Linked DNA regions of Homo sapiens. The protein of the gene in region 3 interacts with the protein of the main gene of each other region in a biochemical or structural test. Each region holds a gene or a part of one and is shown on either strand. Other genes may lie near its edges.

Region 1 (7,022 bases), on a different chromosome or scaffold from region 3:
CATCTGCCTACAACTGCATGAGACCCTGAAACAGAACTGACCAGCCAAGCCTTTCCTGAATTCCTGAGCCACAGGAACTATGAAGATAAGAAAATGGTATTGTTTGAATCCTCTGAGTTATTCAAGTGATTCATTCATTATGTAGCAATACTATCCATAGCACTTTATTAGCCAAAATTATCTCTATAATTTCCCCTCATTAGTCCAAGTGCTAATTTCTCTTTCACATGATACTTGCATCAAATAAATTTGAGAAACTATTGTCTTCTGAATAGATTTAAAGTGGTCATACTTTAGATTTTCTCTTTTCTACAAAAATGAGAAAAACATGATCAGAGGCTAGTATCAGGAACAAAATAATCTTAAAAGCAAAGTATCCTCTTAAGAAGAGTTATTTAGTGTCATACAAGCCATAAAATGGCAATAAACTACTGTGAAGGTTTTTTCTTTTAATAGGTATTGGCTTCTCTACCCAGGTAACCATCTGCTTCATCATATGGTTTGCTATTTGTCATTGAAGAACAAATAAGGCAAAGACTACTAAAGTTTTCTTTGATTTACTGCATTTAAGGCAGCAGTAGATAAGTAGATTCAAAAGAAGCCAGGGCAAGACTATTTTATTTTTTGCTCTGAGCAGGTAGACTATAGAAAATTCAGCAGAAGATAAGGAATGCACACCCAGCCTCAATGTATTCGGCTTCTAACAAATGATCACTGGGGAATGTCTCTGCTTTTAGCACTGCTTCCCCATGTGGCAGGCCCTCGCTCTTCAATACATAAGGATGATAAATGACAACTGTTCATAGTCTAGCTGTTCTCATGTCATGTGCCTCTACAGTTAGGAATGTTGCTAAGGTACTGCTAACCAAAATCCTCCTATTGTTCTCATCTCTTCCGGAAAATCAAGACTTTGGGTAAAGAATTAATAGTTTCTCACTACAAAGGGCTGTAGACCACTAATTTGGCCAAATTGCCTTATCAGTAGAGGTGGAATACAGCAGATTAACTCAGCATATACACTATCATTCTGAATGTTAACCTGTAAAACTATACTAAGACTTCTCGGTAGATTTCTCCTTTCTTTCCTTATCAAATTTCTTTAGAAAACGTTAATTCTAACACAGGACTCAAGACTTACTGTTATACCACTTATAAAAAATTGTCTACACCAGGGATCAGCAAACTTTTTCTTAAAGGGTCAGAAAATAACTATTTTAGGCTTGTGGGGCTATAAGGTCTCTGCATCAACTACTCAACTCTGCAGCTGTATGGAACAAACAGCGATGGGCAATACATAAAGAAATGAATAAGGCTGTGCTCTGGTAGAACTTTATTTACAAAACTGGTAGCTGGCTGTCATTTGCAAATCCCTGGAAGCCATATGAATCTTTTCTGAAATGAAATTAGTTTGGTTAAAGACTTTTTTTCTGACGCACTGAAACTGAGCTTTCCTAAGAGGAACATAAAGTTAACAGAGCAGGAAAAAACCTGCTTTATGGTGAAGAGGTCACTTGAGCTAATCAGTGCAATGGTACAACTACAAACTTCACACAACGTTATTAAAAAAAATAACAAAACAAAAACAGATCTTACTTGAACTTTTTTCTCCCTTCTGCTCTTGCTTCTTCATTTTTAAGAGAACGGTTTCACTAACCAATGTACAGTCCATGTCCACTGTCTCTCCTCCTAATTTTGACTGACTGCCATCCTAAATAAATATTTTAAAAATCAAAAATTTTAACAATTATTCCTTTATGGTCTTATATTTAATTTTTACAAAACATTTTGGTAAAATATACATAACATACATTTTACAACTTTTAAGCATTAAGCTATATTTGCTTTTATACTTTACGAACAGGTAAGGATTTAGGTTTTACTGCTTATAAAACATTTTAGCTTCAATATAATCAAGCCTAGGAAAAGAAGGACTGCTGCCAAGGAAAGGGAGAATTATTTACCACTAAACACCCCTGAACTTTTCCTGCCTTTATTTTCCAATTTGCCTTATAGTAATGAACATCAATGTACACTAAGAACACTTTCAAAAATTAAATTAAATTTCTTGATAGGCATATATTACTCAGCGTATGTTAAATACTTTGTTATTAATATGCTACCAAGTGAAAGAGAACTTCTGAAACTACACAGAAGCTAAATACAAGACAAAAAACTATTTCCACTATGAATTTTAACTTTTAAAAATAGTCAACTTGGAAAATGAATTTTATGGTACATTATTTTAAAGGTAATGAAGACATGATGAATTATTTTAATGAATGATAAAATTATATAAGATATGCAGCATTTTGCATTATTTTAATTTATGAGACAGGGTCTTGCTCTGGTTGCCTAGGCTGGATGTGCAGTGGTGTGATCATACCTCACTGCAGCCTCGAATTCCTGGGTTCAAGGTATCCTCCCAACCTCAGCCTCCCAAGTAGCTAGGACTACAGGTATGCACTGCCATGCCCAGCTAACTTTAAAATTTCCTATAGAGACAGGGCCTTGCTATATTGCCCAGGCTGGTCTCGAATTCCTGGCTTCAAGTGATTCTCTCTCTTCGACCTCCCAGAGTGTTGGGATTACAGGCATGAGCCACTGCGCCTGCCCACTGCATTCTTTTAAAAACTATATTAATATTTTTCAGTAAAGGCCTTTAAAGTCAGAAAGTATTACCCTTTAAAAAATACCATAAAGTTAGAAGAATAAGCATTTTTATTTCTTAATTTTCTGCATAAATACATGTAGGTTTTAAGACGTATCTGATTATCTTAAGGTGATACAGTGAGTCACGAGAGGAGGTTGACTAACAACTCATTGGAATAAAAGTCAAATGAGTTTTGGTTTTACTTTTTAACTTACCTTTGTATCTATTACAGTAACATCCATTTTATACTGAGAAAGGTCTGCTCCCGGATCTATACTCCACTGGATATTTTCAAAGGATACATCTTAGGTAAAGGGAAAGAGCATGCAATTAAAAAACTGATTTCAAAAATTCTCATCACTTTAAAATATTATGGGACCTAAAGAATAGAAAATTTTTGCAAATCATATGTCTGGTAAAGGACTTATATCTAAGATATATAAAGAACTCTCACAGCTCCATAATAAAAAGACAAATATCCCAATTAAAGATGGGCAAAGGATCTAAATAGACAGTTCTCCAAAGAAGATATACAAATTGCCAATAAACATGAAAGGATGCTCAACATCATCAGCAGTCAAGGAAATGCAAACCAAAACCACGAGATGGCAAAAATCAAAAAGCTATAACAAGTGCTAGTGAGGAGGTGGAGATACTGGGACCCTCACATACTGCTGGTGGGAATGTGAAATGGTGTAGCTGCTTTGGAAAACAGGCAGTCTTTCAAAAGGTAAAATGTAGAATTGGCATATGGCCCAACAATTCCACTCCTAGGTATAATCCAAGAAAAATGAAAACATACATCCACACAAAAACCTGTATACAAATGTTCATAGCAGCATTGTTCATAATAGCAAAAAAGTGACAACTTGAATGTCAGCTAATAAATACCTAAAATATGGTATACTTATGCAATAAAAAATTATCCAATAAAAAGAAATAAAATATTGATATATGCTGTAACACAGATAACTGAAAACATTATGCCAAGTGAAAGAAGTAACAAAAGATCATATATTAAACGATTCCATTTATATGAAAACTCCCAGAATAGGCAAATCTACAAAGAGAGAAAGTAGATTTAAGGTGCCTAGGACTGCAGAGGGTATATGGGGAAGGAAAGTGATGAAAATGTTGTAAACCTAGACTACAGTGATGGTTGTACAACTCTGTGGGTATACCAAACCACTGAATTGAACATTTTAATGGGTGATTTTTATGGTATGTGATTTATATTTCAATTAAAATTTTTTAAAATTAAAAACTATAACATTGATGGGGTTTTCAATATATGTAGATAAAATACACAGGAACTACATAAAGTGTAGTTACAGAACATGAAATAGTACATTAACTCCAAGTAGATTGTAAAAGGCTAAGTAGGTAGATACTGTAATCCCTAGAGCAACCATGAAAAAAATAAAAACAAAAAGCTCAAAAAAAATCATGAATGATAGTGAAAAAAATGTTTTCATATAGAGACTAAAACACTCACTGGAAAAACAACTAATGACTGTGCTTCAGGAAAAAGGGAAAATAAACCCAGAATAAAGGAATAACTTGCCAATGAAGAATACAAGAAAAAATACTGCACTTGAACTACAGAAATGTTTGGTGGCTGAAAAAAAAAATTACTTTTTTAAAGATAGCAGGCTGGGCGTGGGTGGTTCACACCTGTAATCCCAGCACTTTGGGAGGCCAAGGCAGGCAGATGGCTTGAGTCCAGTAGTTCGAGACCAACCTGGGCAACAAGGCGAAACCCAGTCACTTCAAAAAATAAAAAAATCAGCTGGGTGTGGTGGTGCATGCTTGTAGTCCCAGCTATCCAGGGGGCTGAGATGGGAGGATCCACCTGAGCCTGGGAGGTCAAGGCTGCAAGTGAGCCGTGATCATGCCACTGCACTCCAGTCTGGGTGACAGAGTAGGACCCTGTCTCAAATAATAATAATAATAATAATAAAATATAGCAAAATTATGAAAAGATGCCTATATATCTTAAGGCAAACAATTTTTTTTTTCTTTTTTTTTTTTGAGACGGAGTCTTGCTCTGTCACCCAGGCTGGAGTGCAGTGCAGTGGCACGATCTCGGCTCACTGCAAGCTCCACCTCCCGGGTTCACACCATTCTCCTGCCTCAGCCTCCCGAATAGCTGGGACTACAGGCGCCTGCCACCATGCCTGGCTTATTTTTTGTGTTTTTAGTAGAGATGGGGTTTCACCACGTTAGCCAGGATGGTCTCGATCTCCTGACATCGTGATCCACCAGCGTCGGCCTCCCAAAGTGCTGGGATTACAGGTGTGAGCCACCGTACCGGGCCAACAATGTTTTTAAAGGAGTTTAAAAACGTATATAAGTGGCCGGGCGCAGTGACTCACGCCTGTAATCCCAGCACTTTGGGAGGCCGACGCTGGTGGATCACGATGTCAGGAGATCTAGACCATCCTGGCTAATGTGGTGAAACCCCGTCTCTACTAAAAATACAAAAAAAAAAAATTAGCCGGGCATGGTGGGCGCCTATAGTCCCAGCTACTCGGGAGGCTGAGGCAGGAGAATGGTGTGAACCCGGGAGGCGGAGCTTGCAGTGAGCCGAGATCGCGCCACTGCACTCCAGCCTGGGCGACAGAGCGAGACTCCGTCTCAAAAAAAAAAAAAAAAAAAAAAAAGAACAGAAAAATCACCGGTAAAATGTGAGAATCGTCCTATAAATACAGACACCTGAAGGAAGAAATAAGTTTTTTTCCAAAACAATTCAATCTATTTAAAAAAGTAAATAATGACATTCAATCTGAAGTCATTAAAAAAGTGGAGATCCTGTTTATGGTGTACACACCTTGGTTGTTTTGTAGAGACTTTATTTTACCAGTTCTACATGGATTTAACTGAAGAACTGATGCAAGTTCACATCCTCCATGGTCTGACCTGGTTTGTATTTTTATTGGCTCATGAGAACCAGCACTCTAAAACAGAAATAATTGTTAGCTCTAAATGAAATCACAAGCAATCATTTTAATCAAAATCCTTGAACATTTAACACAAACCTTTATGTCATCTAAAACATTCTCAGTCTCCAAACTTTCACGTGGACGTAGAGGAATTTTAAAGACAGCATTTTCTTCTTTTATTTGTAATGATGGTTTATTGTCTGGAGAGCATTTATTCAAGGGCTGAAGGATGATGCATTCCTGTGAACAGGGCTCCCCTGGGGAATCTTTGGGCAACGTGCAGTTGCCATCTGAGGCCTTACGGCTTGAGGAAAAGCCCTTTGGAATGGTCTTCAAAGCCTCATAAAGAGTCACTTGCCTAAATTTGTTTTTAGAAGTCTCACTTCCTTGGCTTTTCTCTTGACGCTGAATAGCTGAAAATCGATCAGACAGATCCAGAGGTTTATCCATCACACAGTCTCCATTCATGGAAAACTGATTATCCATTGGAAAAGGGAAAGCATTTTCTTTATCAAAAGAAGCTTGGGGGCAGCTTACTTCATGTTCACTTTCTTCCTCAGTTTTCTTCCTTTTGGATGTTCGGCCTCCCAATGATTTCAGGGGCTCCAAATGTTTATCAGTGTTAGAATCTTTACCGTACTCAGTCCTATTCTGTTCACCTAGGGATTCACTTATATTTTTATTTATAAGTATCTGTTTATTAGATGACTGGATAATGATCTTGTTCACTTCAGACCCAAGACTGTGATGTGTGAAAAGGGCACTATCTTCAGATTTTGATCTAGTTTTTTCTAATCTAGATATACAAGTGTTGCTAAAAGGGAGTGTTTTCAGATGTTTTTTTTTCCCAGGCTGTAAAAGAGAAGGGGACAAACTTGTATTCAAATCTAAACCACTTTTGATACTAGAGGTAGCTCCAAATACAGGAGATGACACTCGAGTAGGTAATTCTTCTTGAGGAGGAGTCTTTGAAGTAGAATCTGAAAATCTAAATAAAGAGTGATAACAATTCTTTAATACAGAATTAATAGTAAGGTCTTATCTACCTCTTAGAAGCAAATGATTAACCAAAATTTAAGACAAGGTACAGCTTTTGGCTTCTCTTCATTTAGATGACAAAAGAGAAGGGGAAAAGCAGAGGAAAATGACATAGGAAGTATTTCTCAACACCATAATATTCATATTTTAAAAATTTTTCCTAAGTACTTTAAATAACTTTATTATACAAAAAATCATCTTTTGCCAGGCGCAGTGGCTCATGCCTGTAATCCCAGCACTTTGGGAGGCCAAGGTGGGCAGATCACTTGAGGCCAGAAGTTCGAGGCCAGCCTGGCTAACATGGTGAAACCCCATCTCTACTAAAAATACAAAAATTAGCCGGGTGTGGTGGCACACGCCAGTAATCCCAGCTACTCTGGTGGCTAAGGCAC
Region 2 (7,022 bases), on a different chromosome or scaffold from region 3:
GTGACCATAGAGCCACCCATGCCTCACAGTCCTCTCTCCCATCCCTCCTAGCTCACTGGATCCAGGTGGTGGCCTCTCCACTTCTCAGTATGAAAAGATGGGCAAGGCACTTTTTTTCTTGGTGCCAGTCTCTCCTCATTTCTGGAACTCACACCCGCGCTTTCAGAGGCTCACCCACTCCCCTCCACGCAACGGCACAGACACCCTCACTCCTCTGCGCTCTGGCACACTCGCCTGCAACCAGCCCGCGGACACACGTGTGCAAGGGGCATGTCCACAGCTGCCCCGGCTCACCCTGCGGCTGCGCGCCACCATGAGCGGCGTGTCGTTGTGGCAGTTCTTGAGGCTGCTGTCAGCGCCGCTGCGGACCAGCGTGCGCACCAGCGGGAGGAGCCCGCGGCCGGACGCTGAGTGCAGGGCGGAGCTGCCGGAGTACATTTGCGCGTTCACGTTGGCGCCGTGCTGCGGGACGGGAGGGCCGGGTCAGGAGGGCGCGCGGGCCACCCGGGGTAAGGGAACAGAGGCTGGAGGCCCGGGTGGGTGGCCGGCACGTGGGGCGGCACCGGATCGGGGTGGGGTCACAGGAAGGTAGGAGCGAGAGCCAAGGGCAGGCCAAGCGGGACTGCGTTGGCGGCGATGAATTAACCGGAGCTGGACACCGAGGCCCGCGCCCCAAGGAGTCGGGGGAGCTGGAGGGGGGAAGGACAATGCGTGGACAGGGCCTAGCTGGAAGGCGGGGTCAGCCAGGCCATCGCAGGGCGGGGCCTAGGCCGTTGAGGTGGCAGAGGAGGAATGGGACAAGTTCGTAGCCAGGGGCGTGGAGCCCGAGGGTCGAGAAAACTAGGCCTTAAAGGATCAGAGCTGGACGCGGAGCAGGAGCCGGAGCCAGAAGTGGAAGGCGGGGTCAGAGCTAGGGGCTGAGGCCAGAGCCGGGTTGGGGTCAGAGGATAGGGTGGGCGCGAGGCTCAGGGGGGCTGTACGCACCTGCAGCAGCAGCTGCACCATGCTAAGGCTGTTGTTTTCCACGGCGTGGATGAGCGGGGAGCGGCCGCTCTTAATGTCCTGCGGCGGGGAGGGAAGGTCTTAGTTTCTCCAAGCTCTGCTCCAGCAGCCGGCGACCCGCATCCCGTCCACATCCCATTCGCGGGGTCCAGCCTCTCTCTTGGGTCTGATACTCCAAGCCCCACCCCACCCGGGTGCTCTCCCACGCCAGCCCCACACTGGCCCCGCCCCCGCCAAGACCCCGCCCCTGCTAAGGCCCCGCTCCCTCCCAGCTCCTAGTGCACGCTCACCACTGCGTCGATGTCGGCACCGCGCTCTAGCAAGAGCTGCACGGTTTCTTGGCACTCGGTGTTCACTGCCACGTGCAGGGCGGTGAGCCCTGAGGGAGAGGAGGGCTCGGTGAAACCTAGGCCCGGGCTTTGCGGCCGCTGATGGACTCCAGGTCCGCTGGACAGCCCAGCGGTGCCCCGCGGTAAATGCTTACCGTCATAATTGCGGGCCTCCAGGTCCAACGTGCCCGGAGCTGCGCTGTCCAGCAGGGCTCGCAGGCAGGTCGGGCTGCGGTGCTCGCACGCCAGGTGAGCGGCCGTCTGGCCATGGCGGTCCAGCGCCATGGGGCTGGCACCAGCTGTCACCAGGAGCCGGACCACAGACGGTAATGTGGTGATCACAGCCAGGTGGAGCGGTGTCTGGGGAACAGTGACTGTGAGGGACCTGTGTCCAGCCCTGCTCTCTAGTCCTGCCTCCCCCAGGTTTTCTGAACCCTTATTCCTCATCCTGCAGTCTTCCCCAGGAACAGAAACCTGAGACACCTCCTGTCTCAGATTCAAGAGTCCGGGCCCCATGCTCCTCCTTCCCCAGGACCCAGAAGACTGGGCCTCCAACCTCCTCTTTCCCTAGTACCTGAATTCTGGGTCCCCAGCCCCCTCCCTCCTCACTAGGAGGTCTTTAGGCCCCCTCCCTCTCAGGAACAACCAGTCCGAGGCCCCAGAGCCCTTCTTCCCCAGGAACCAGGAGCCTGGAGCACCTCGCTACTTAGAGTCCAGACCCCAGCCCTCCTCCCTCAGACCCAGGAGTCCAGACCCCCAGCCCTCCTCCCTCAGACCCAGGAGTCCAGATCCCCAGCCCTCCTCCCTCAGACTCAGGAGCCCAGGACCCAGCCCTCCTCCATCAGACCCCGGATCCCAGGCCCGCAGCCCTCCTCCATCAGACCCAGGAGTCCAGGCACCAGTCCCTCCTCCCTCAGACCCAGGGGTCCAGGCCCCAGCCCCCCTCCCTCAGACCCAGGAGTTCAGGCCCCCAGCCCCTCCTCTGTCAGACCCAGGAGTCCAGGCCCCAGCCCTCCTCCCTCAGACCGAGCCTCACCTGCCGTAGGTTGTTGTAGATGTCGAGCTCCCGGCCCCCCTGCTGGAAGAGGTTGACCAGCCGGTGCACAGCTGGCAGGTTACCCTGCACCACAGCAATATGGAGAGGCCTGGGGGTGGGGGAGTGAAGGAATCACAGGCATTAGGGGTTGTTCACCTCTCACCCTCATGCTGTTGGCAATGCTAACTCCAATGTGTTGAATACTTTGGAAATGTCCCCAGTATTCAAACACTTCTCCCCACCCACTCCCTCCATCCTGATTTACCACCCGCTCCCTCCATCCTGCTTTAGCCACCACTGGCTCCCTGCTGGTCTAGTACAGTTCCATCCTCATGGCTTCTCTGCTTCCACCTATGCTCTACTGTCTGTCCCCCACACAACAGCCAGAGGGACCCTTTTATTTTATTTTATTTTATTTGTTTGAGACGGAGTGTTGTTCTATCGCCCAGGCTGGAGTGCAGTGGTGCTATCTTGTGCTCACTGCAATCTCTGCCTCCCAGGTTCAAGCGATCATCCAACCTCAGCCTCCTGAGTAGCTGGGATTACAGATGTGTGCCATCGCGCCCAGCTAACTTTTGTATTTTTAGTAGAGACATGGTTTCACCATGTTGGCCAGGCTGGTCTCTAACTGCTGGGTTCAAGTGATCCTCCTGCCTCAGCCTCAGCCTCCCAAAGTGCTGGGATTACAGGCGTGAGCCACCACGCCCAGTCTGGAACAAAAGTTTTGACTAAAAGGGAGGTGAGGACAAACTGGGATGGGGCCATTGTTCTGGAGGCGGTACAGTCCAGAACCCCCTTCTAGACTGAAGGACTCACTCCCTCAGCTTCTGGGAAGATTGTCAGCTTTCAGACCATTTGGGAATTACCCTCAACTCAAGAGAGCTGCTTGTCCAAGGTCACGCCCCATGTGAATCAAGGGCAGCTGCCCTTCAATGGCATCCAGTCACTGGTTAATGCCAGCATAGAAGGCCTAGCCTCCTGACCCCAATGCTGAAGGCCATTCCAGCTTCAATATTCCCTGTGGGACAGCTGAGGCCGTGTGGAGGCGACACAGCAGCTCAACTTCTCCCTCTGCCCAGATGGGCTTCCTTCATCCCACAGGTGTTGATGGAGAGCATTTCCAATAAACTTCCTGCTCAGTTTCCAGAGACCCCAACCTAGAACAGCTATTCAGAGACTGGTGTGTGTGCATGCGTGCGTGCTTGTGCACGCCTGTGCTGTTTGCATGGGGTGGGGGACAGAGTGGAGGACCCAAGGAGGACTGCGTGTACACAGTGGGTGGCAGGATCTTTATTTAAAGTTTACTAAGTAATTCCTTTCTCACCAGCACCCGTTTCTCTTGTGGAATGTGTCTCTAGAATCCAGTTTAAACTAGCCTCCCAGGTGGTTCTGATGGAGTGCAGAAATCCCGGGGCCAGAGTTGCAAATTGGGCCACAACCCCTCCTAGCGTAGCCGCGTGCTAGGGCAAAGCCATGGGGGCCTTTCGGAGCCTCAGTTTTCTCTTATGTAAAGTACAGCGTCCACATGCCAGGGTGAGATCACGCAGGTGAATCGCTGAACCTGACTCCTAATCCGTGAAAGCCAAATTTAAAAATAAAATGTTGAGGGAGGGGCCGGGGTCCCTGGGAAGGGTCCCCCCTTCTCTGCATCTCCCAGGACGCCTGGCCTGGGTCCCTCTCGGGGCGGCCAGGGTTAAGTGAGGGCAGACGCAGCGAATGATTTCAGAGAAACCGTCCAGGCCTGAGTTCCCATAAACGCGCGGGCCGCAGGGGGTGGGGCGGGGCTGGAGGAAGTGGGGACGGGAGGGGCGACCCAGCCCTCGGACTTCCAGTAACAGGTCTGCTGGGCGGGGCTCTGCTTCCTGCTCCCGGGGGAGGGAAGCCTGTCCCGCCGGGGATCTACCCTGGCCACCCCTGGCACCCCAACTTCCATCCTCGAATGGGGCGGGGGAAGGGAGTGCCCAGCCCAAGAAGACCTAGCTCCCTTGAGGTGTGTGTGTGTAGGGGGGGCGCATAATCCCGAGTCCTCCCGCCTGGGGGACCCTCTGGAACTCCACCCCGCAGAGCTCAGGCTCCAGCTGGCTGCAAGTCCTCCTTATCCCGGCATCCACCCCCAACATCTCTTGGGAGCCAGAAATAGCCCTAACTCTTCTTTAAGAATAAGGACTTCCCCCGTCCTTCAGAGCTCCAGGATCCCAAACTACCTTGCCAGTCCTTGTCCCCTCAGAGACCCAGAAATACAGCGCCTCAAACCCTGGCCCTTTGGGAACACAGACTTTCAGGCCCCTTGGCGTGACCAGTTTCACCAGCCCAACGTCCTGCTGCCGCTGTCGTGAAATTCTTAAGTTTTGAACAAGGGACTCTGCAAATTTCTGTATCTGGTCCTGCCCGTAAAGCCCCTCTGAGTGCCAGGTCCCCAAGCTGCCAAGCTGCTCCTCATCCCCTCGGAGATTAAGGAATACAGTTCCCCAACTTCTGCCTTCTGAGAATCAGAACATCACCCCCCCCCCCCGCCCCCGCCTTCCTGCCCCCTCCCCAGGTTTCTGGCTGCCCAGTCCCTAACCTCTTGGGGGTCCAAATGCCCCAAGGCTCGTACCCGCCTGTGAGGAGATGGAAGCCCAGCCTCCCAACCTTTTGGCTTCTGCGGGGACCCAGACTTAGCGTCCCCCGCCCTCCTCGCCCCCACTGCCCTCCCCCGCGGGTGTGAAGAGGAGCCGGTGGCGCAGGCTGGGGCCGGGCCGCTGCCCGTTCCGGTAAAGTCTCAGCCCCAGCGGAAGGGGTTAAGGTTGGAGGAAGCGCCAGGAGGGGGGAGGCTGCGAGTGAGTGACGGGTGCTGACGTGGGGGAGGCAGAGCAGCTGGGTTGCGGTCAAGTTCTGCGGGAAGGGATTTCCCCCAGCAGGCAGCTGAGGCAGAAGTGTTTGCCTTGGGGGAGAGTCGGAGAGGGAGGGTGTGGGGAGGGCCTGGGGCTGGAGACTGGTGGGCCGGGTGGCCTCTGGCAAGCACCCTGCTTTTCAACAGCATGGACAGCTCACCACTGGGGGCAGAGACTGTCTGATTAAGCCCATTTCATAGATGACCCCCCAGAGGTACCCAGAAGGGGAGGGAACTAGGTTTTATTAGCTCTTTATAATCTAGGCCACTTTCTCCTGCTAGGGCTCTGGAGATGGCCTGCAACCACCCTGGGAGCTCTGCTCAAACATTACCCATTTCCATGCATTGAGCACTTACTGTTTGCCCAGCCCTGTTCTGTGCACTGTATTAATACATGTGTACAAGATCTCACTGAATCCTAATTGTGATAGGTGCTATTATGAGACCCAGTTTCCAAATAGGGAAACTGAGACTCAGGGACATGAAATCACTCAGTGGGCCAGTGGCGGAGCAGCCCTCTGCTACTTCTCTGCAGAAACAGGCCTGTTCATCTCTACCTGTGGTTTCCAGGCCCCAAACTAATTCTCACAGAAGTGCTTTGTATAAATCATGTCATTTCTTCCTCCCAGAGACCCTCACACGCGATGGTTCCTGTTTTTACAGAGAGGGAAACTGAGGCACAGAGGGAGTAGAACGTGGCCACGCTGAGATTCCAACCCAGGTCAATAGAATAATAAGAATCATGATGATCAATTGCAGTGAGTGCTTACTATGTGCTAGGCACAGACCAAACCCTCCCGTGCAGGACTTCTCAGCAGCCTCACAAACATGTTCTTCAGACTGCAGGTGATAAACCATGGGGGTTGTGAAATCAATTTAGGGGATCTTCAAATTAATGTAGTGGGCTGTGACCATGAAACAATGAAGTCGACTAGAATAGAAAATGGCAAAGTAAAGCTGTAAGCTGGGCTCGGTGGCTCACATCTGTAATCTCAGCACTTTGGGAGGCTGAGGTGGGAGGATCACTTAAGCCCAGGAGTTTGAGACCAGTCTGGGCAACATAGCAAGACTGCTGTGTTTCTACAAAAAAAAAATACAAAAATTAGCCAGGTGTGGGGGTAGCGTCTGTGGTCCCAGCTACTCAGGAGGCTGAGGTGGGAGGATCATTTGAGCCCAAGAGATCAAGGCTGCAGTGAGCTATGATTGCACCACTGCACTCCAGCCTGGGTGACAGATCGAGACCCTGTCTCAGAAAAAAAAAAAAGAAAAAGAAAAAAAGAAAAAAAGAAAATGTCACAGTAGAACCCACATAGTAAGGGCGAGTATTGTTTCATTTTGTGCAATTTTAATTTCAAGTTTGTGTGTGTGTGTGTGTGTGTGTGTGTGTGTGCTGGGTTTGAGATAAAATAATAGTAATATTAACAAACACTTACTCAACATTTATGCCAGGTCCAGTGATAGTTTTACATGTATAATTCATATAGTAAGTTAATCAATGAACTGTCTTTCTTGTTTTTAGGTTGTGACAAAATATCTAAAGACCACCGTTCCAAAAATAGTGTTCTAGGGGTGGGCTTGGGGCTCATGCCTGTAATCCCAGCACTTTGGGAGGCCAAGGCGAGTGGATCACTTGAGGTCAGGAGTTTGAGACCAACCTGGCCAACATGGTGAAACCCTGTCTCTACCAAAAAATACAAAAATTAGCCAGGCTTGGCAGTGGGCACCTGTAGTCTCAGCTACTCGGGAGGCTGTGGCATGAGACTCACTTGAACTTGGGGGGCAG
Region 3 (7,022 bases):
GGGCAGTGGGGCAGGACCTCAGCCAGTCACACCATCATCCACACAACGGCCCGGCTGGCACACTGCTTCCCTCCCACTGGGGCACTGCGGGCAGGCCGCCTCCAAGCCAGGACCCTACAGCGTCCCACAGACCCAGTGGGCAGAGGGACAGGCCCGGTACACACAGAGACCACTGCCCAACCTGCCACTGCACTGTCTCTGGGTCTCTCTTAGGCCGCCCACTTCAGAGAGGCTGAGCTGAGCCGTGGAGGTCACCAGAGCCAGGACTGAGGCTCACCCGTGTCCTCATGAGAGAAAGTCACCAGAATAGATGCTGGGCACGCTGGCTCTTTCCAGGATTTTTATTTCTTTAAAATAATTCATACAAATGGTTACAGTCACAAACATGATTTTAACCAAAATATTGCTAGCCTACCACATCAGCAGGACGGCACTGGTGCAGGCGGGGACGCTGCCACCCTCCACGTCCCCAGGACAGACGTCGATGGGCAGCGGGCACGCTGGGCACCGCCCAAGCTTTTCCTTTTGGAGCTGCTTCGTGATGCCGTCTTCATTTGGAACAAGGGGGGGTTCATGCCAAAATTAGGAAAAACAGCCTTTGTTTTGTTTTTCTAAATTATTCTAAAAATAAGACAAGCAGGTAGAAAAAACAATGCACTGTGTGGCATAAAAAGAAAAACGGGAAGGATTCATTGTCCTGAGAAGTTTGCCAACTGCCTCATTCTGGGGCACGTTCCAACATACAAAAAAAAAAAAAACAAAAAAAAAAACCTCAAATTGACTTCCAAATGCTCCTTCAGGTTTTCTTTTTGTTGACAGCTAAGCAAACAGATCCTTTGTAATGTTCTAAAAACTGTACACAGACAAGAACGTTCATGGGAGAATAACTACTGACTTCTTCTGCTTAACGAGGAACGCGAAGGACACAGGGCAGAGCGCCCACAGGACGGACGACGACAAGCGACACGAGGCCCAGCGCTGCCCCCTCCCGCCTCCTGACAGCCCGGACCAGTCTCTGCAGTGCCAGGGCCACCACACAGATGCCTCCTCCACACACTCTGGTCCGAGGGTTTCCGGGCCCTCTGCCCAGGCGCCGAGGCTGGAGAGCTCCTCCCGGGCTACAACTGGTCACTGGCGTGGTCTCTATCCGCCTCGGGCTTGACGGTTTGGCCAGGAGAAGGGGCGTGGGGCGGGTGGGCCACAGGGGGCAGGCCGTGGGACAGGGACATGGCGCTGGGGACGATACCTTCCACAGCAGCTGGGATGCCAGTGGGGGCCACGCCCACCACGCCCGGAGGGTACCTGCTGGGAGAGGGTCCATCCGTGAGGCCCACCTGTAGGCGGCCTGGCCAGGCCCCACCTGCCCTCCTAGCATCGGCAGCACCGAGGGGGCCTCTCCAGGAGGACCAGCAGTCAGGGTAAGGATCCCGGCCTTTACACGGATGTTCCTGCCTATGGCAGCTACTTCTCAGGGCTGGGGAGGGGAGCCCTGGTGTCTCCAGGTGACTTGAACATGAGGTCTTCGCCTCACCCAAAGCCCCCTCCTCCCACAGGCCCCGTGCCCATGGCACTCCTGTGTCCACTGAGCCCTGAAGGCCACCCCAGCCCAGGCTCCTTCCAAGAGGCCCTGGTTCTCATGGGCCTTTCAGGTGAGGTTGGCCTTACCAATTCTACCCAGATCCTCCAGGTCAGTCAGTGGAGACGCCGCCCCTCCCACCAGGGGCTGTGCTGGGATCCAGGGGAAGCCTGGGGCCCTCCTGGAGGCTGTTCTGGGCCAGCGGGCCTGCTCACCTATAGGCAGCCCCATTGAGCTCAGGGTGCACGACGGCGGGGTCCATGCTGGCCCAGTGGGTGGCGGCTGTCAGATGGTCCTTGTTGACACAGTTCTTCAGGCTGTCTGGGATCCGGCCTGGGAGATGCAGGAGGAAGGAACAGCTGTGGCTCTGAGGGGGCCCCAGGAGCGTGGCCCACTGGGTTGAAGACACGGGCAGCAGGATTCTTGGCAGTGTGCTCCTCCCTCTCAGCCCCGGGGCTCCCAAGGCACGGCAGGGTCCTGTCTCTCTGGGCACTGGCACCCTTGCAGCGTGGGGACCCCCAGCCCAGAGCACGTGCCCAGCTTGCTGAGGGACCTGTCTGCTCAGCCCAGCAACTTCCCAGCAGGTCCTGTGTGTAAGACACGACGCCAGGGCTCAACTTGACTTTGGCCTTAGAGGTCCCTGCTGGGGGTGCAGTGAGAGCACCACGGGCCCTGAGCTGGCAGAACATGGGCCTGGCTGCCAGGCGGATGCGAGCCCATGAGCATCTGGGGCTGGCAGGAAGGGACCCCCAGGCCTGACCGAGCGGCCCCCACGCCCACCTGTGATGGCTCTGCGGATCTCCCGTGCCGCCTCCTCTCGCATCTCGATGGATGCCTGCTCGCTGTACCATGCAGCATGGGGGGTGCAGATGAGGTTGGGTGCATCCTTCAGAGGGCCCTGGCTAAAGCTGGGAACAGCACAGGCATGGTCAGTGCAGCCTGAGTGCTGTGGCTGGGTACGGAGGGGAGGTGGCTGGGCACTGGAACCCCCTGTGGGGGGCCCTGCCTGGGAACCACAGACCCCACGGCCCTGCTCTGCTCGGCAGGCTGGCTGAGCTCAAGAGCACAGCCCCGGGACCATCAGACACACCAGGGGCTCCTGACAGCGGCGGGTGTGGGAGCCCAAGGGATTTAATCTCCAAGTCCCTCGTGGGAGGAGCCCTGATGGGGGGACATGCTGCCTGGCCCCTTCCAGCCAAAGGGTCTGTAGCCCCAGGAGCTGCAGGCTGATACTGCCCCTGTGGGGGTGTCTCCTCTTGCGGCTGAACATCCAACCCAGGGCTGCCTGGGGTCCCAAGGTGCTGTAGGGGCTGCAGGTCTGGACGGGATGCCATGACTCCATGGCCAGGGCCCATGGGGACCACTCACAGACACTGGGGCCTCACTCTCTCCTGGTTGGTCAGGAGCCCTGCCCAAAGAAGGGCTGAGGAGGTTGAGCAGCCCCTCACAGGACCGAGGCAAGGCAGGCCTAGAGCCCGTGGCTCCATCCTCACCCCGCAGCGGGCGGCAAACTCCCCCACTGCTGGCCAGCGAGAGGCCTGAGTACAGGCAAGTGTCCGGCCTGGCAGAGGCGCCGTCTGGAGGTCAAGGCCGGCAGGATGGTGGACAGGGAAGAGCAGGGGGGCGGCACTGGCCGTGGGGGCACCTGAAGGGTTCCGACTCGTGCACATCCAGGGCCGCGCCGCGGATCCGGCCCTCCTTCAGGGCCTGGGCCAGCGCCTTCTCATCCACCAGGCCACCCCGGGCTGTGTTCACCAGGAAGGCCCCTTGTCTCATCTAGAAGACATAAGGACAGGCCAGGCCCAGTCAGGGATCCGCACAGGGCGGGCAGCCAGGGAAGCAAGGTGGTCACGCACGCCGTTGGGAAGGCCCAGCTCCCTAGCCCCTTCCCAGCCCCACCCTGGGCTCACCACGGCGCTAGGACTGAAGGCCTCGGGCGTGCTGCACCGCGGCCCTGACAGGCTGGCTGAGGATCTGCCCTGTATGGACCTGCACGGCCCCACAGCTCCTAGAGAGCTCCACCCTCCTGCCCAAGCCCTGAGCTGAGGACTGGGCGGGGGCTCCTGGCTTGGTCCCCCTGTGGTACCCCTTTTCTGGGTCCCCTCCAGCCCAGCCTCCCCCACGCAGGGCCTCAGCCCACGAGGTGGGACTCCCTGGGACGGCAAAGCCCAGGGCCGTCTGTTCTGAGGCGTGGTCTTTGACTCCAACCCCAGCGGGGCCTGCAGCAGAGCCTCCGTCTTCGGAACAGGCTCGCTTTTCATGCACTTTTGCAAAAAGCCCTGCGGGTGGCTCTCCCTCGGCTTCGTGGCCAGGGCTTTCCTGCAGCCCCCCCATTTCATTCCAAGAAGTCCACCCAGCCACGGTGCTTGGCTGACAGCTGGGCAGGTCACGGTGGCTTTTCTTTGGTGCACTGCTGCCCATTAAAGCCTCACACCCAAGGTCCTCAGGGACGGCAGGGCTCTGACCAGCATCCACGTGCCACACCCTGTCCCCTAGAAGGCTCCAAACCCACTGACTCTGTGAACAAAGGAAGGGGCAGCGGGAACCTGGCCTCATCCTCCTTGTGGCTACAGGCTGCTGGGGCAGCTAGAGTGGGCGGGTGGCCTCTGACACGTGTGTACACACATGCACATACATACAAGCTCATACAAACATGCAGACACATGCACCCACGCACACTTGCCCACACACATACACATCACTGTGCACACACGATGACTCCCTGAAGGGCCTGGAGCCAGCGGGAGGCAGCCATCCCCAGCTCCACCCACTCAAGGGGAACGCAGGGCTGAGGCTGCACTGCGAGCTGTGCTGAGGCAGAGGCCGACCTGAGCACAGCCCGTTCCAGCTGCAGATGTCAGAGGCCGACCTGAGCACAGCCCTTTCCAGCTGCAGATGTCAGAGGCCGACCTGAGCACAGCCCGTTCCAGCTGCAGATGTGAAACCTGAACCTGGCAGCACGGAAGTCACAAGGGCCGACCCAACGCCCCCAGGTAGCTGCATCTGTCCCCACTGTGACAACAGCAAGGGCTTCAGGGGAATTTGGTGTTCAAAGGTATGAGGTTCTGTCTTGTCCAGAGAGTATTTTAGATGTCCTGAGTAGAACTCAGAACACAGAAAACGCTGTCTGGGCAGACAGGGCTTCCCCCAGCAGGGCTGGCAGCCGCCGCCATGTGGCTCGCTGAAGGCAGGGTCTTGCCCAGGTGCAGATGGCTGCTGGGAGGGACCTGCCTGACACCCCCACCTGTACCTGCCCCGCAGAAGTAGAGTCCTGTGTCCCCGGCTCCACGCACCTGCTTGACGGTGAAGTCGTTGATGAGGTGGTGGTTGTGCTCGTTGAGGCCGCAGTGCAGGGTCACGCAGTCGCTGTGGAAGAGCAGGTCCTGCAGGGTGCTGACACGCTGCAGCCCCAGCGCCCGCTCCACGCCATCCGACAAGTAAGGGTCGTAGAAGAGCACGTTGAAGCCGAAGGCCTTGGCCCGCAGCGCCACTGCCTGCCCCACGCGACCTGGTGGCGTCAAGACACAGTGTGAGACCCTTGCTCACCCGTGGCCGGGAGGCCGGCCCCGAAAGCCAGGGTCGGAGTGGCCTCTGTGCCTCAGTTTGACCATCTGCCAAGGATGACACCAGCTGTGGTCAAGCCAAGGTGCCCACGCACGCTCCACACGAGCGCTCCACGTCCGCTCCAACGCGCCCACTGCCAAGGCGGAGGAGATGCACAGGGGTGGAAAGGGTACACTAGCCCCTCGGCCCACACCAGCTGCCAGCCACACCACTCCCCTGCAGCCTGTCCACAGGACGTGACATGAACCACTCAGTGTCAAACGGACTGGTCAGTGGGTCTCCACCCACCCAACACATGTCCTCCGTGCCCAGGCCCCTCCGCTGGCCTTTCGATCCACCCATCAATGTTTCCGGCATCTCAATTCCAGCCACCACTACGTGGAGACGGCAAAGGGGGCAGGAGGGAAACTTCCAGACCAGGGAGGCCCCGCTGGGCTCAGGTCCTGACCCCTTCGAGTGGAGCGGCAGAGAAAGCCATCCCAGGCAGACGTGCCTGCCCCCACCCCAGCAGTCCAAGGCTGGCACGGGTCCCAGCACAGGAGCCGTGGAGCTTGAGCCACCGTGTCTGGCTGGGGCCGGCTCCTCCTCGGGGAAGGGTCTGCAGAGTGCTCGTGCCCACTGTGAGCCAACAGCATGGCTGCAAAGGACACAGGACCCCAAGCCCGCGAACGTGGTGTCTCCTGCATTGCCTCAGAGGGAACCGCTACACAGGAAGGAAGCAGGTTGAGCGCCGGGGCGGGTGGGAAGTGGGCGCAGTTTCAAAGGCGGCAGCCAGGGCAGGCCTCCCTGAGAAGACCAAGCTTGCTGGAGACATAAGGGGACAGGAAGGGAGCCAGAGAGCTGGAACAACACGTGCGAGGGGCCCGCGGCGGCCTGAGGGCCAAGGAGACCAGACCGCCAGGCACACAGGGTGGCCGGACGTGGCCCAAACGCCCAGGGGACCCCCAGTCACTCTGGGAAGAGGACTGGGGGAGGCTGGGAGGCCAGTCAGAAGAGCTGAGGACCGTCTAAACGCACTACATCCTAGAAAGGGAGGCGCCTGTTCTACGAGAAGGAACATGGTGGCTCCTTCCATCCCCAGGGACGAGGCTGCTGCAGGAGGGAGGAGGGCTCGGCAGGCGGAGGTGGGAGCAGCAGTTCTGAGGGTTGCAGCCACGGCCGGAGTACCCGGGCAGCTCCCCAGGTGCAGAACAGCCCGTCTGTCAACGCCCCCTGCCAGGGATCCCACCAAATGGGGAGGAAGAGAACACAGGCAGACACAGAGAAAGGCGTCTCCCACAGCGCAGAAGGCGGACGACACGCTGTTTCCCACTGCGCACAACACAAAGCCCCGGAAGTCGGGCTGCCGGTGGCGAAAACCAGCTAAAGCCGCGGGCCGGCGCCGGCCACGCCTGACACGGGAGAGCAGCGGCTGTTCGGGGCGAGACCATTCTTCACTTCTGTCTCTGCCATTCTCTTCCACATGATGTCTGGCTTAGGATAAGAAATTATGATGATGCAGGTGAAGAGACAGGAGGATGTAGTTTCTAATTAGAACAAAACACTGGAAGCGGACAGACGCACAGATGACCGAGGCTGGAATCAGCCAGCAAAACCTCTTAATAACTACTATAAACATGCTCAGAGATGACAACAAGTGTGGATGTAAACAGCAGAAAAATGGAGGCTTCCGGAAGATGAATGGTAACTCTATAAAGAACCACATAGAAATTCCAGAACGAAAACATCCCTCTGAAACGGAACTCCCTGGACAAAGCTAACTGCAAGAAAAGGATCGGGAGCTTGAAGGGAGGGGCTCAAAGTCAGCAGATGGCATCCAAACAGAAGCAGAGAGAAAAGAATTTAAAAAATAAATTTTAAAGAACAGGCCTTGGTGGCTGAC

Evidence for each region.
Region 1: the proteins of CTBP1 (region 3) and RBBP8 form a complex in vitro, tested with the Homo sapiens proteins (3 studies listed by BioGRID and IntAct).
Region 2: the proteins of CTBP1 (region 3) and BCL3 form a complex in vitro, tested with the Homo sapiens proteins (one study listed by BioGRID).

Annotation. Positions count from the first base shown.
Region 1 is NC_000018.10:22,992,306-22,999,327, reverse strand, and holds part of RBBP8 (DNA endonuclease RBBP8), read right to left. Parts: intron 6,581-7,022; coding exon 5,689-6,580; intron 5,608-5,688; coding exon 5,481-5,607; intron 2,955-5,480; coding exon 2,866-2,954; intron 1,709-2,865; coding exon 1,594-1,708; intron 1-1,593. UniProt on the Homo sapiens protein: Endonuclease that cooperates with the MRE11-RAD50-NBN (MRN) complex in DNA-end resection, the first step of double-strand break (DSB) repair through the homologous recombination (HR) pathway.
Region 2 is NC_000019.10:44,751,686-44,758,707, reverse strand, and holds part of BCL3 (B-cell lymphoma 3 protein), read right to left. Parts: intron 2,477-7,022; coding exon 2,368-2,476; intron 1,692-2,367; coding exon 1,487-1,691; intron 1,382-1,486; coding exon 1,293-1,381; intron 1,063-1,292; coding exon 985-1,062; intron 463-984; coding exon 295-462; coding exon of another isoform or gene 163-294; exon of another isoform or gene 1-162. UniProt on the Homo sapiens protein: Contributes to the regulation of transcriptional activation of NF-kappa-B target genes. In the cytoplasm, inhibits the nuclear translocation of the NF-kappa-B p50 subunit.
Region 3 is NC_000004.12:1,211,122-1,218,143, forward strand, and holds the end of CTBP1 (C-terminal-binding protein 1), read right to left. Parts: exon of another isoform or gene 5,085-7,022; coding exon 4,870-5,084; exon of another isoform or gene 4,838-4,869; intron 4,570-4,837; exon of another isoform or gene 4,425-4,569; intron 3,353-4,424; coding exon 3,222-3,352; intron 2,485-3,221; coding exon 2,357-2,484; intron 1,910-2,356; coding exon 1,792-1,909; intron 1,650-1,791; exon of another isoform or gene 1,554-1,649; intron 1,419-1,553; exon of another isoform or gene 1,306-1,418; coding exon of another isoform or gene 1,303-1,305; coding exon 1,119-1,302; 3' UTR 324-1,118; downstream 1-323. UniProt on the Homo sapiens protein: Corepressor targeting diverse transcription regulators such as GLIS2 or BCL6. Has dehydrogenase activity. Involved in controlling the equilibrium between tubular and stacked structures in the Golgi complex.